Homo sapiens: one gene and its partner. The protein of the gene in region 1 interacts with the protein of each later gene in a pairwise test. Each region holds a gene or a part of one and is shown in the gene's direction. Other genes may lie near its edges.

Evidence for each region.
Region 2: the proteins of SUMF1 (region 1) and SGSH interact in binary tests that used the Homo sapiens proteins (3 or more experiments, as listed by UniProt).

The regions. Positions count from the first base shown.
Region 1 is NC_000003.12:4,360,602-4,366,335, reverse strand, and holds the end of SUMF1 (formylglycine-generating enzyme isoform 1 precursor), read left to right. Parts: intron 1-4,081; coding exon 4,082-4,192; 3' UTR 4,193-5,190; downstream 5,191-5,734.
Region 2 is NC_000017.11:80,217,334-80,224,703, reverse strand, and holds the start of SGSH (N-sulphoglucosamine sulphohydrolase isoform 1 precursor), read left to right. Parts: upstream 1-4,370; 5' UTR 4,371-4,390; coding exon 4,391-4,478; intron 4,479-7,370. Other genes in the region: SLC26A11 (sodium-independent sulfate anion transporter), read right to left, coding at 1,367-1,524, 1,857-2,049, 2,910-3,143. UniProt on the Homo sapiens protein: Catalyzes a step in lysosomal heparan sulfate degradation.

The DNA.
Region 1 (5,734 bases):
GGGGAGAATGGAACCAAGTTGGAAACACTCTGCAGGTTATTATCCAGGAGAACTTCCCCAATCTAACAAGGCAGGCCAACATTCAGATTCAGGAAATACAGAGAACACCACAAAGATACTCCTCGAGAAGAGCAACTCCAAGACACATAATTATCAGATTCACCAAAGTTGAAATGAAGGAAAAAATGCTAAGGGCAGCCAGAGAGAAAGGTCGGGTTACCCACGAAGGGAAGCCCATCAGACTAACAGCGGATCTCTCGGCAGAAACTCTACAAGCCAGAAGAGAGTGGGGGCCAATATTCAACATTCTTAAAGAAAAGAATTTTCAACCCAGAATTTCATATCCAGCCAAACTAAGCTTCATAAGTGAAGGAGAAATAAGATACTTTACAGACAAGCAAATGCTGAGAGATTTTGTTGCTACCAGGCCTGCCCTAAAAGAGCTCCTGAAGGAAACACTAAATATGGAAAGGAACAACCGGTACCAGCCACTGCAAAATCATGCCAAATTGTAAAGACCATCGAGACTAGGAAGAAACTGCATCAACTAACGAGCAAAATCACCAGCTAACATCATAATGACAGGATCAAATTCACACATAACAATATTAACTTTAAATGTAAATGGACTAAATGCTCCAATTAAAAGACACAGACTGGCAAATTGGATAAAGAGTCAAGACCCATCAGTGTGCTGTATTCAGGAAACCCATCTCACGTGCAGAGACACACATAGGCTCAAAATAAAAGGATGGAGGAAGATCTACCAAGCAAACGGAAAACAAAAAAAGGCAGGGGTTGCAATCCTAGTCTCTGATAAAACAGACTTTAAACCAACAAAGATCAAAAGAGACAAAGAAGGCCATTACATAATGATAAAGGGATCAATTCAACAACAAGAGCTAACTATCCTAAATATATATGCACCCAATACAGAAGCACCCAGATTCATAAAGCAAATCCTGAGTGACCTACAAAGAGACTTAGACTCCCACACAATAATAATGGGAGACTTTAACACCCCACTGTCAACATTAGACAGATCAACGAGACAGAAAGTTAACAAGGATATCCAGGAATTGAACTCAGCTCTGCACCAAGCAGACCTAATAGACATCTACAGAACTCTCCACCCCAAATCAACAGAATATACATTTTTTTCAGCACCACACCACACCTATTCCAAAATTGACCACATAGTTGGAAGTAAAGCTCTCCTCAGCAAATGTAAAAGAACAGAAATTATAACAAACTGTCTCTCAGACCACAGTGCAATCAAACTAGAACTCAGGATTAAGAAACTCACTCAAAACCGCTCAACTACATGGAAACTGAACAAAAATGACTACTGGGTACATAATGAAATGAAGGCAGAAATAAAGATGTTCTTTGAAACCAACAAGAACAAAGACACAACATACCAGAATCTCTGGGACACATTCAAAGCAGTGTGTAGAGGGAAATTTATAGCACTAAATGCCCACAAGAGAAAGCAGGAAAGATCCAAAATTGATACCCTAACATCACAATTAAAAGAACCAGAAAAGCAAGAGCAAACACATTCAAAAGCTAGCAGAAGGCAAGAAATAACTAAAATCAGAGCAGAACTGAAGGAAATAGAGACACAAAAAACCCTTCAAAAAATTAATGAATCCAGGAGCTGGTTTTTTGAAAGGATCAACAAAATTGATAGACCGCTAGCAAGACTAATAAAGAAGAAAAGAGAGAAGAATCAAATAGACCCAATAAAAAATGATAAAGGGGATATCACCACCGATCCCACAGAAATACAAACTACCATCAGAGAATACTACAAACACCTCTACACAAATAAACTAGAAAATCTAGAAGAAATGGATAAATTCCTCGACACATACACTCTCCCAAGACTAAACCAGGAAGAAGTTGAATCTCTGAATAGACCAATAACAGGCTCTGAAATTGTGGCAATAATCAATAGCTTACCAACCAAAAAGAGTCCAGGACCAGATGGATTCACAGCCGAATTCTACCACAGGTACAAGGAGGAACTGGTACCATTCCTTCTGAAACTATTCCAATCAATAGAAAAAGAGGGAATCCTCCCTAACTCATTTGATGAGGCCAGCATCATCCTGATACCAAAGCCGGGCAGAGACTCAACCAAGAAAGAGAATTTTAGACCAATATCCTTGATGAACATTGATGCAAAAATCCTCAATAAAATACTGGCAAACCGAATCCAGCAGCACATCAAAAAGCTTATCCACCATGATCAAGTGGGCTTCATCCCTGGGATGCAAGTCTGGTTCAATATACGCAAATGAATAAATGTAATCCAGCATATAAACAGAACCAAAGACAAAAACCACATGATTATCTCAATAGATGCAGAAAAGGCCTTTGACACAATTCAACAACCCTTCATGCTAAAAACTCTCAATAAATTAGGTATTGATGGGATGTATCTCAAAATAATAAGAGCTATCTATGACAGACCCACAGCCAATATCACACTGAATGGGCAAAAACTGGAAGCATTCCCTTTGAAAACTGGCACAAGACAGGGATGCCCTCTCTCACCACTCCTATTCAACATAGTGTTGGAAGTTCTGGCCAGGGCGATTAGGCAGGAGAAGGAAATAAAGGGTATTCAATTAGGAAAAGAGGAAGTCAAATTGTCCCTGTTTGCAGATGACATGATTGTATATCTAGAAAACCCCATTGTGTCAGCCCAAAGTCTCCTTAAGCTGATAAGCAACTTCAGCAACGTCTCAGGATACGAAATCAATGTACAAAAATCACAAGCAATCTTATACACCAATAACAGACAAACAGAGAGCCAAATCATGAGTGAACTCCCATTCACAATTACTTCAAAGAGAATAAAATACCTAGGAATCCACCTTACAAGGGACGTGAAGGACCTCTTCAAGGAGAACTACAAACCACTGCTCAATGAAATAAAAGAGGATACAAAGAAATGGAAGAGCAATGTATTTTTAAAAAGCAATGTTGTCCCACAGCCTTTCCTATGTTTGATGTTCCTAGACTTGTTGTTTAATTTTTTGCCGATCTACTGGCATTAAATGATATCATAAATATGATTTAGATAATAAATAATATCATAAATATTATTTAGGTATTAAATGGTGTCTTAGTGTTGTTCTTAGTATTTTTTCAGTGGCCATCTATCACTTATTACTTGGTTTAATTTCAAAAATTAATATATATTCTTATTGTATTGGAATACTGAATAGGTTTCATATAGGAAACATGAAACTCAGATTGCTTGAGGGATAACTACTGTGCACATTGTGGTGCATTCGGAATCTTCCAGTCTTTTCTTCTTGGCACATGTAGTTATCTACACTGTGGTCATACCACATATACACCTTTATATTCTGCCTTTTTCATTTTAACTGTTTTTTTTTCTTTTTTTGGACACAAGATCTTGCTCTGTCACCCAGGCTTTAGTACAGTGGCTCAGTGATGGTGTACTGCAGCCTCAAACACCCAGGCTCAAGAGATCTTCCCACTTCAACCTCTAGAGTAGCTGTGACTACAAGTGCACACCACCATGCTCAGCTAATTTTTTGTAGAGATGGGATCTTGCTGTGTTGCCCAGGCTGGCCTCGAGCTCCTGGCCTCAAACAGTTCTCCCATTTCAGCCTCCCAAAATGTTGGGATTACAGGTGTGAGCCAGTGCGCCTGGCCTCATTTAACATTTTATCATGAAAACTTCCTGTGTCATTAAATACTATGTAAAGACATGACTTTCAATGGCTGCTTACTTTTCTATTATATGGATGTGCCTAAACTTAGGCAATCATTGGTTGTTACATTTTTCTTTTTTGCTGTTATATCTAATGCTGAACATCTTTGTACTATATCCGTGTTACATTTATAAGGTGAAGGACGTTGGAAAATATGTGGTTAGTTCTTGAATGTGCTGCCCTTTTTAAAGCATACATGTTAAGTATCCATACAGGCAGGGTTGTGGGGAAGCACTGTCTACAGCCGGTGCAATATGCATCTGATGGGTTAGAGCCTTCAGCTGAGAGTCCCAGTAGCACTTACCTTGCTCTTTCTCTCTACACAGTCTTATTGTTACAGGTATCGCTGTGCTGCTCGGAGCCAGAACACACCTGATAGCTCTGCTTCGAATCTGGGATTCCGCTGTGCAGCCGACCGCCTGCCCACTATGGACTGACAACCAAGGAAAGTCTTCCCCAGTCCAAGGAGCAGTCGTGTCTGACCTACATTGGGCTTTTCTCAGAACTTTGAACGATCCCATGCAAAGAATTCCCACCCTGAGGTGGGTTACATACCTGCCCAATGGCCAAAGGAACCGCCTTGTGAGACCAAATTGCTGACCTGGGTCAGTGCATGTGCTTTATGGTGTGGTGCATCTTTGGAGATCATCACCATATTTTACTTTTGAGAGTCTTTAAAGAGGAAGGGGAGTGGAGGGAACCCTGAGCTAGGCTTCAGGAGGCCCGCGTCCTACGCAGGCTCTGCCACAGGGGTTAGACCCCAGGTCCGACGCTTGACCTTCCTGGGCCTCAAGTGCCCTCCCCTATCAAATGAAGGGATGGACAGCATGACCTCTGGGTGTCTCTCCAACTCACCAGTTCTAAAAAGGGTATCAGATTCTATTGTGACTTCATAGTGAGAATTTATTATAGATTATTTTTTAGCTATTTTTTCCATGTGTGAACCTTGAGTGATACTAATCATGTAAAGTAAGAGTTCTCTTATGTATTATTTTCGGAAGAGGGGTGTGGTGACTCCTTTATATTCGTACTGCACTTTGTTTTTCCAAGGAAATCAGTGTCTTTTACGTTGTTATGATGAATCCCACATGGGGCCGGTGATGGTATGCTGAAGTTCAGCCGTTGAACACATAGGAATGTCTGTGGGGTGACTCTACTGTGCTTTATCTTTTAACATTAAGTGCCTTTGGTTCAGAGGGGCAGTCATAAGCTCTGTTTCCCCCTCTCCCCAAAGCCTTCAGCGAACGTGAAATGTGCGCTAAACGGGGAAACCTGTTTAATTCTAGATATAGGGAAAAAGGAACGAGGACCTTGAATGAGCTATATTCAGGGTATCCGGTATTTTGTAATAGGGAATAGGAAACCTTGTTGGCTGTGGAATATCCGATGCTTTGAATCATGCACTGTGTTGAATAAACGTATCTGCTAAATCAGGCTTCACCGTCATCAGCTTCTTTTCTCTTTCTCTTCTTTATGTTTTCTTTTAAAGAGAGGACTTTGTGATATGCGTGTTTTATTTGCTAGAAAACGTTCATGTTTGTTAGCTAATGGATAACTTTGATATGTGGGTAATTTGTGGGAATTTTTGTTCCAAAAAGCAAGGCTATTCCACCAGTAACCCTATCATGACCTTGCTGCTTGTTGCCACAGTAGATAATGCCAAGTCAAAGGCACTGCCTCACTTGTGGTCTTGTAAAACCCAGCATTTGCTTCCCATGCCGGGAAAGCACCTTGTTTTAGAACAATAGCTTTCAACCTAAGGTCCCTGTTATCAAGTTCCCATCCTGATTCCTCAGTCCTGAGAACCCCTAAGCCATTTCTTGCATGCCATTTGAAAGAAATGTTTAAATCAAATAATATTCAAAAGTGTCTAACCAACACTTGAATGCTACTTTTGTGCTTAGCCTCTTAACATGTTAAAACAATTCCCTTGAAAAGCAGTCATGTAGGCCAGGCCCAGTGGCTCACACCTGTAACCC
Region 2 (7,370 bases), on another chromosome or scaffold:
TTAAAGAACCAACCATGCCCTGAAACAGCATTTGCCAAGCTAACCCTGAGAGATGCGTGTAGATAACGTACAAATCACGCTCACCCACACCTAAGTTGGTCCCTCCTCTCTCAAATGGAAATAATGATAAATCTACCTCCCGGGGTGTGTTGAGAATTACACATGGAGAGTGTCCTGCCCAGTGCCTCGCACGTAGCAAGAGTGCAAAAAGTGTCTACTTTATTCTCACACTCACACACTCACACTCTCACACTCACACTCTCACACCCACACCCACTCTCACTCACTCACACTCACTCTCACACTCATACACTCACACACGCGCGCGCGCACTCACACTCCCTCACACCCACACCCACTCTCACACTCTCACTCATACACACTCACACTCTCTCACACACACACGCACACTCACTCACACACGCACTCACTCACACACGCACACACTCACACACTCCCTCAAACCCACTCACACTCTCACACACTCACTCATTCACACACTCACACACACTCATACACACTCTCACACACACTCTCCTGTCCTTGGTCTTCTCATGGTACCTCCATCAGGGAAGACTGTCTCAGGCCAGCCTGGAACAGGGCCTGGCTTGGGGAAGATGACCTGCAGTGACACAGGGTCAGGAGGCAGCATGTGACCCTAGTCTGCCATGAGGGCCGCATGGTCCCATCTGTGGAATTGGGCTCACTTCACTCCACACACACCCCACTGAGCACCCCCCTACTGCACCAGCCCAATGCTGGGCGGCCATGGCTGGGAGAAGGACAGTTCCTACCCTCGAGGAACTTACAACCCAGCAAAAACAGAATAAATTACACCCTCAGCTGATGACTGATTTTAGTACTTATTATAAATGTTTTAAAAGAAAATATAAAAGGCATGGCATTTAAAAAATATTAAACAGAAACCAGAAAAAAAAGCACAAAACAAAACCATCTAACTAAATTGGCATGGGGAAATAATTTGCCTATAGAAATTCTAGCAGCATGCTCATGACTGGTGGGGCCTGCTGGGTGTGCCCAGTGCAGGGAGAACAGAGCCACGTCACAGAGCCAGCCAAGCACACTGGCACGGAAACTCGGGCAAGAGCAGGGGGATGGAATTACCGGCCCCCAAGTTACCCGCTGTGAAATCCAACCATCACGTGACATCCCTCCCAGGAGGGTCATTTTATTAACAGGGGACCCATGAGAGCACCGCGTGCTTCTTGACCCATGGAAGACAATCTGAAACAGCAAGACGTCCACTGGCCACAGGGATCAGGACTGGCCTCAGTCCTGCTCCCGCCATCCCTGTGCCAACGAGCAGTGGCCAAAGAGCAGTGCCCTGGGTGGGCGCCGTGCCTACCTTGATCTGTCCAAAGCCGATGGTGACGGCAGCAGCAGAGGTGAAGCCTTTAATGACGGGGTAGGAAATGAAGTCCAGCAGGAACCCTGGCCAGCCAAGAGGGGACATCGAGCTGGTCCCGGCTCCACCCAGTCCCAGAGGATGAGGGGAGATGTGAGCTGGGGAAGGTGGCAATGGGTGGGATTGGGGAGCAGATACCGCAGCTAAGGACTGGGGGTAACACACCCTGTTTGGCTGTTTTTGGAGAGCAGAAAAGGGAGACTGGGGTCTGAGGCCACAGGCACTTCTCCAAGTGTCCTGGCCTCTAAGCAGAAAAGAGTAGACTAAGAGCCAAGTGCCCCACCCCCTCCACCACCCACCCACCTACACACACACACATACATACCCACACCCCAACACGCACACACACGCACACGGGGATAGACTTGAAATGCAAACAAGCAAATGCTGAGGTCGAGGGCATCCCCTTGGCAAGAAGGTAGAGCCTCACCCAAACGCAGGACCCCCATGGCCAGCTGGATGCAGCCGGACAGGAAGGCCAGCAGCACAGCGTAGGCGGGCTCATGGAAGGTGTAGAAGGAGACCAGGAGGGACATAATGGCGGTGGGGCCCAGAGTCACATCCCGGGAGGTGCCCAGGAAGAAATACACGAAGCAGCCCATGAAGGCAGAGTAGAGGCCATACTGTGGGGAGAGAGGGTGGTGAGCACTCAGGAGGCCGAGGCCCATCCACCAGCTCCCTAGTGTGCGTGTCCAAGCTCGGGATGTGTGGGTGTCAGCTGTGTCCAGGCCCAGGTTAAAGGTGCACCGCCCTGCCCTGTGGGTGGACCTGCAGTGATCAGGAGGCCACTTTTTTAGCAGCACTCAACTGGGGCCTCAGGGTGCAGACAGCCAGGCAGAGGGGTCGGTGCAGGCCCGTGTGCTGTGTCCAAGTCTGAGGAAGCATTCTTTTTTTTTTTTTTTGAGATGGAGTCTCGCTCTGTCGCCCAGGCTGGAGGGCAGTGGCACAGTCTCGGCTCACTGCAAGCTCCGCCTCCCGGGTTCACGCCATTCTCCTGCCTCAGCCTCCCAGGTAGCTGGGACTACAGGCACCCGCCACCACACCTGGCTAATTTTTTGTATTTTTAGTAGAGACGGGGTTTCACCCTGTTAGCCAGGATGGTCTCCATCTCCTGACCTTGCGATCCGCCTGCCTCGGCCTCCCAAAGTGCTGGGATTACAGGCTTGAGCCACCGCACCCAGCCTAATTTTTGTATTTTTAGTGGAGACGGGGTTTCACCATTTTGGTCGGGCTGGTCTTGAACTCCTGAGGCCTCCATGAGTCATCTCGCTGGCCCCTCCATAACCAGCTCAGTGTCTGTGTGTGCCAAACAGGCATAGGAGCCTGGGTCGGCCCAGAGACAATCTGCGTCACACACTGTAAACCAAAGGTTCCTTGGGGCCCAGGGGCTGGAAACCTGGAATCGCTGATGGTGTCTGGGATTGATACTGTGTATTCTGCACTGTTTCTGAGATATGGCTGGCAGCAGGGTCAGACGCCTCACCTGGGGCGGGAGTCCAGCCACTTCAGCATAGGCCAGCGCCTGGGGAATGGCAGTGAGGCCAACTGAGAGGCCGGCGACGAAATCCATCTTCAGCCACTGCAGGGAGTAGCTGGGCAGCCACGCCAGGATGGGCAGCCTCCTCTGCAGGGCCGCAGGGGAGCAGCAGCAGGCGCTCGGGGCCATCCCGGGGCCAGAGGACCTGGCCTGACCCAGCGCCGTCACCGAAGAAGGCATCTCTACGGTGGGGCTGGGGGGTGCAGGTGACACAGACCAGCAGTCAGAGCGTGGCCTTTGAAGAACCCGGCAACACTGGTCAGGGTCGGCGGGTGTCAGGAGAGGTCACTATGGGTCTCCCCTCCCCAGGGGGGCGAACGGCTCTAAGAGGAAGCCAACAATGTGTGCAAGATGGGGACTGGGCCAAGACTGGAAGGCCCACCCCGTCCCTCATCACCCTCTCTCCCTGAATCCCCCCCGTGCAAATCCTGGGTGCCTTCTGTCCCTCCATCCTCAACTCTCCCAGATAAGAAACTGATAAGCGATTCCTCATTGAGAAGTCTGAAGACTAATTAGGCTCAACACTTCTGGCCCCTGGAGAACCGACTTCCTTTGCCTTTTTTTCCGTCTCCCCAGGGAATTTAACGGGGAGCAGCGCAGAGAGAAGCTGGGCCCGCGGGCGCACCGTAGGCTGGCGGGGGGTGCGGGTGGCAGCCAGGAGATCCAGCGGGGCTCCGAGGTTTTCCAACTGCGCACCAAGGCGGGCTCCACCCGCTACGGTGGACTGCGGCGCTCGAGGGAGAGTGGGGGGGTCCTCCGCTCCTGAGGCCACGCCTCGCTCAGCCCCCACCTGTGGCTTTCACAGCCCTGGAGTTCTAGTTGCTTCTGGGAGGACATCAGAGGCGCCCGGTTAATTCAGGTGCGCAGCATCTTCCAGGGCCCCGGCGCCCGCGCGCAGAGCCGCCACCCTCACCCCCAGCCCCCCACGCCCCCGGCCGCTCCGCTCCGGGCAAAATCCACTCCCCGGCCCCCGGCCCCGCCCACAAGGCCGCTGGCTCCGGATCCTGGGGTCTCCGGAGGAGACCCTGCGCCACCTGACCGTCCGCGGTCCCTTGGCCCCGAGCAAGGCCGAGGGCCGCGGGGACCCGGGTAGGGACGCGGCGGGGGAGTGGTCCCCACGGGAGGCCCCCGCACTTCAGGACTCCGCGCTGGCCCCCGCGTCGGCTGCCCCCGGCGACCCCGGCCACTGTCCGCTCCCCCTGCCCCTGGTCCCCGCTCGCCGCCCTCGCGGGCCACGGACTCACCCACTCGGCGATGCAGCTTGGGGTCTCCTGGCGTCGCCGCAGCTGGGTCCGCAGGAATCGCCGGGGACAGGCCGGGGCGGGGTCTGGCGCGCACGTGACCGGGGTCGGGGCAGGGGGCGGGGCCGAGCGGGAGACCAGAGAGCCGGAGCCGGATCCCGATCCCGAGTCCGAGCCGCCGCCGCCATGAGCTGCCCCGTGCCCGCCTGCTGCGCGCTGCTGCTAGTCCTGGGGCTCTGCCGGGCGCGTCCCCGGAACGCACTGCTGCTCCTCGGTGAGTGCCGGCGCCGCCCCCCCACGCCCACCTGCGGTGGCCCGGGGAAGTGGCCACTGGCCTCCTCCCCACCCGTGGTCAATGCTGACCCTAGTGTGCCCTGCCCTTGTATCCCCCGCTGCCATTCCCTCTCGTCCTCCTCTCTGTGCCGCCCCCAGACTCTTCACGGGTGTCTCCCCAGAGAGGGCAGCAAAGGCTGGAGGAGTGAGCCCCAGCATCCAGCACCCCTACACTTACCTCGTGCCGCCTGTCCCACCCTCCTCTGACCCTGCCCAGCCAGGGCTCAGGGGTCCACGGATCTCAAATCCCTCTTGGGAGGGGATCCCAGAGGAGGGGCTGGTGCTCCGGTCCCCAGAGACTGCAGACAGGGTGCCCTCCTGGCTCTCATTTCCGACCCCAGAGCCTGTGTCTCAGCTGTCTTTTCCCTTATCCCAAGGGCACAGCCCTCCACCACCCACCCACCACCGTCTCCCCCAACCCCAGTCCCTCTCAGAAACCCCAGGTTCCTCCAGAGCAAGCACCGTGCTGCTCACAAGACTTCCGGTTTAGGTAATCAAGGCTCTGGCTCATGACAAGTGACAAGGCCAAACCCAAGGCCTGCGATTCTTTCCCCTTCTGAGGTCTGGCGCCCTGCCAGTTGCCCTCTTTCTGATTAATTTTGTGGTCTCTGGGCGGGGGTTCGGCTCACTGTAACATAAACAGCTCTCCTGCCAACTCCTCGCCTCCCAGAAACACAGCAGAGAATCTGCATGGACCCTCACCTGCGGATCAGAATTCCTACAGGAGGCTGTCAGAGTCCAGGCTATGCGGCCCCTGGGCTAGGGCCTTTCTTAGCACGGACTGCCATGGATCGGCTTAAACAGAAATGTATTTCTCACAGTTCTGTGGGCTGAAAATCCAAGGTCAGGGTGCCAGCTTGGTTGGGTTCCAGTGAGGGTCCACTTTCGGCTTACAGGTGGTCACCCTCTCACTGTTTCCTCACATGACAAGCGGATGGGGGTGGTCTCACTTCCTTTTCCTTTCTTTTTCCTTTCTTTCCTTTTTTTTTTTTTTTTTTTTTTTTTGTGAGACAGGGTCTCACTCTGTCACCCAGGCTGGAGCACAGTAGCACAATCACAGCTCACTGCAGCCTCAATCTCCCAGGCTCAAGCGATCCTCCTGCCTCAGCCTCCCAAGTAGCTGGGACCTCAAGTGCACATCACCATGCCTGGCTAATTTTTGTATTTTTTGTAGAGACAAGGTCTCACTGTGTTGCCCAGACTGGTCTCGAACTCCTGGGCTCAAGCAATCTTCCTGCCTTGGCCTCCCGGGTGCTGGGCTTACGGGCATGAAACACTGCACCCGGCCCTCTCTTTCTTTTCCTTTAAGTCCACAGTCCTGTCAGATCAGGATCTCATCCTTATGATTCATTTACCCTTAATTAAGGACCCTGTCTCCAGATACAGTGATGTTGACGTTAGGGCTTCAGCATATGAATTCTGGGAGGACACAGTTCAGACCATAGCAGGCCCACAGCCAAGTGCCGAGACACTCTGGGTTTGGAGAAGGGCAGCTTTCTTCCTGGCCTGCGGGTACGGAGCACAGCCCATCCCGCTCTCCCTCCAGGTTTACGTGGCTGCCATGTGCTCACACCTGTGGGTACTGTGGGGTGGAGGATGGAAGCCCAACTGGAAGGTGCCCAGCCTCCTCTGTCCATCCATGGACCACATTGCCTCTGAGGGAGCTGGGGAAAGTGTTGGTCTGGGGGTTCCCACCAGCCTCTCCTGTGGTGCCCCCAGTGTCCTCTACTCCAGAGCAGGGGGAAGAAGCTTGGTGTGGTTGTAGGAGTTCAGCGGCCTGTCCCTGTTTCCTGCTGCCCAGTGTGTGGCCCTGGGCACTGCACCTCACCTTTCTGGGCCTCAGCTGCTTTGTGTAGGATGAAAGGGTTGAAATAGACAACCTGCAAGGTCACTAGGCCTTTGAGATGGCATCAGTGAGAAGCAGCGGTGGGACGCACACACATAGAGCTTTAGACGCGCCCTGGGCGAGGCTCTCCTGCCCTCTGCCCCATGCGGTTTCCGCTGAGCCCAGAATTGCCCAGCAGTTCTGTGGCCATGCGCTCAGCCGCTGTCTGCCTAAATGCCTAGCCGGCTAACACGCCCACCCAGGTAGCATGCCTGCTGGGGTATCATCAAGCTTGTTGGGTCATCATGCCTGCATGAGTATCTTGCCCACTTGGGTACCATGCCTGCCTGCTAACATGCCTATGCAGGTACCAGGCTTGCCTGGGTACCATGCCCATCTGCTTATACCCACCAGCTATCAGTCCAGCCTGTGTACCATGCCCACCTGCCAACATACCCACCGGGTATCATGCCTGCTTAGGGTATCATCAAGCTTATTGTGGTATGATGCCTGCTTATCATGCCCACTTGGATACCATGCCTGCCTGCTAACATACCAACCACGCATCATCCCTGCTGGATACCAGTCTACCTGCTAACATACCCACTGGTATCAGGCCTGCCTGGGTACCATGCCTACCTGCTTATACCCACCATCTATCAGTCCAGCCTCCATACCATGCTCACCTGCCAACATACCCACCATCTATCAATCAGTCCAGCCTCCATACCATGCTCACCTGCCAACATACCCACTGGGTATCAGGCCTGCCTGGGCACCCTGCCTGCTTGCTGATATACCCACCAGGTATTGTGCCTACTAGGTACCATGCCTTCTTGCTAACATACCCAGTGGGTATGGGGTCTTCTGGATACATGCCTGCCTGCTAACATACCCACCAAGTATGAGACCTGCTAACATGCCCTCTGATACCATGCTTGCCTGATGTACCCACTCGGGTGTCATGCCTCCTAGGTAATGGAGTGCTCTGTCACGATAGCATTTCGC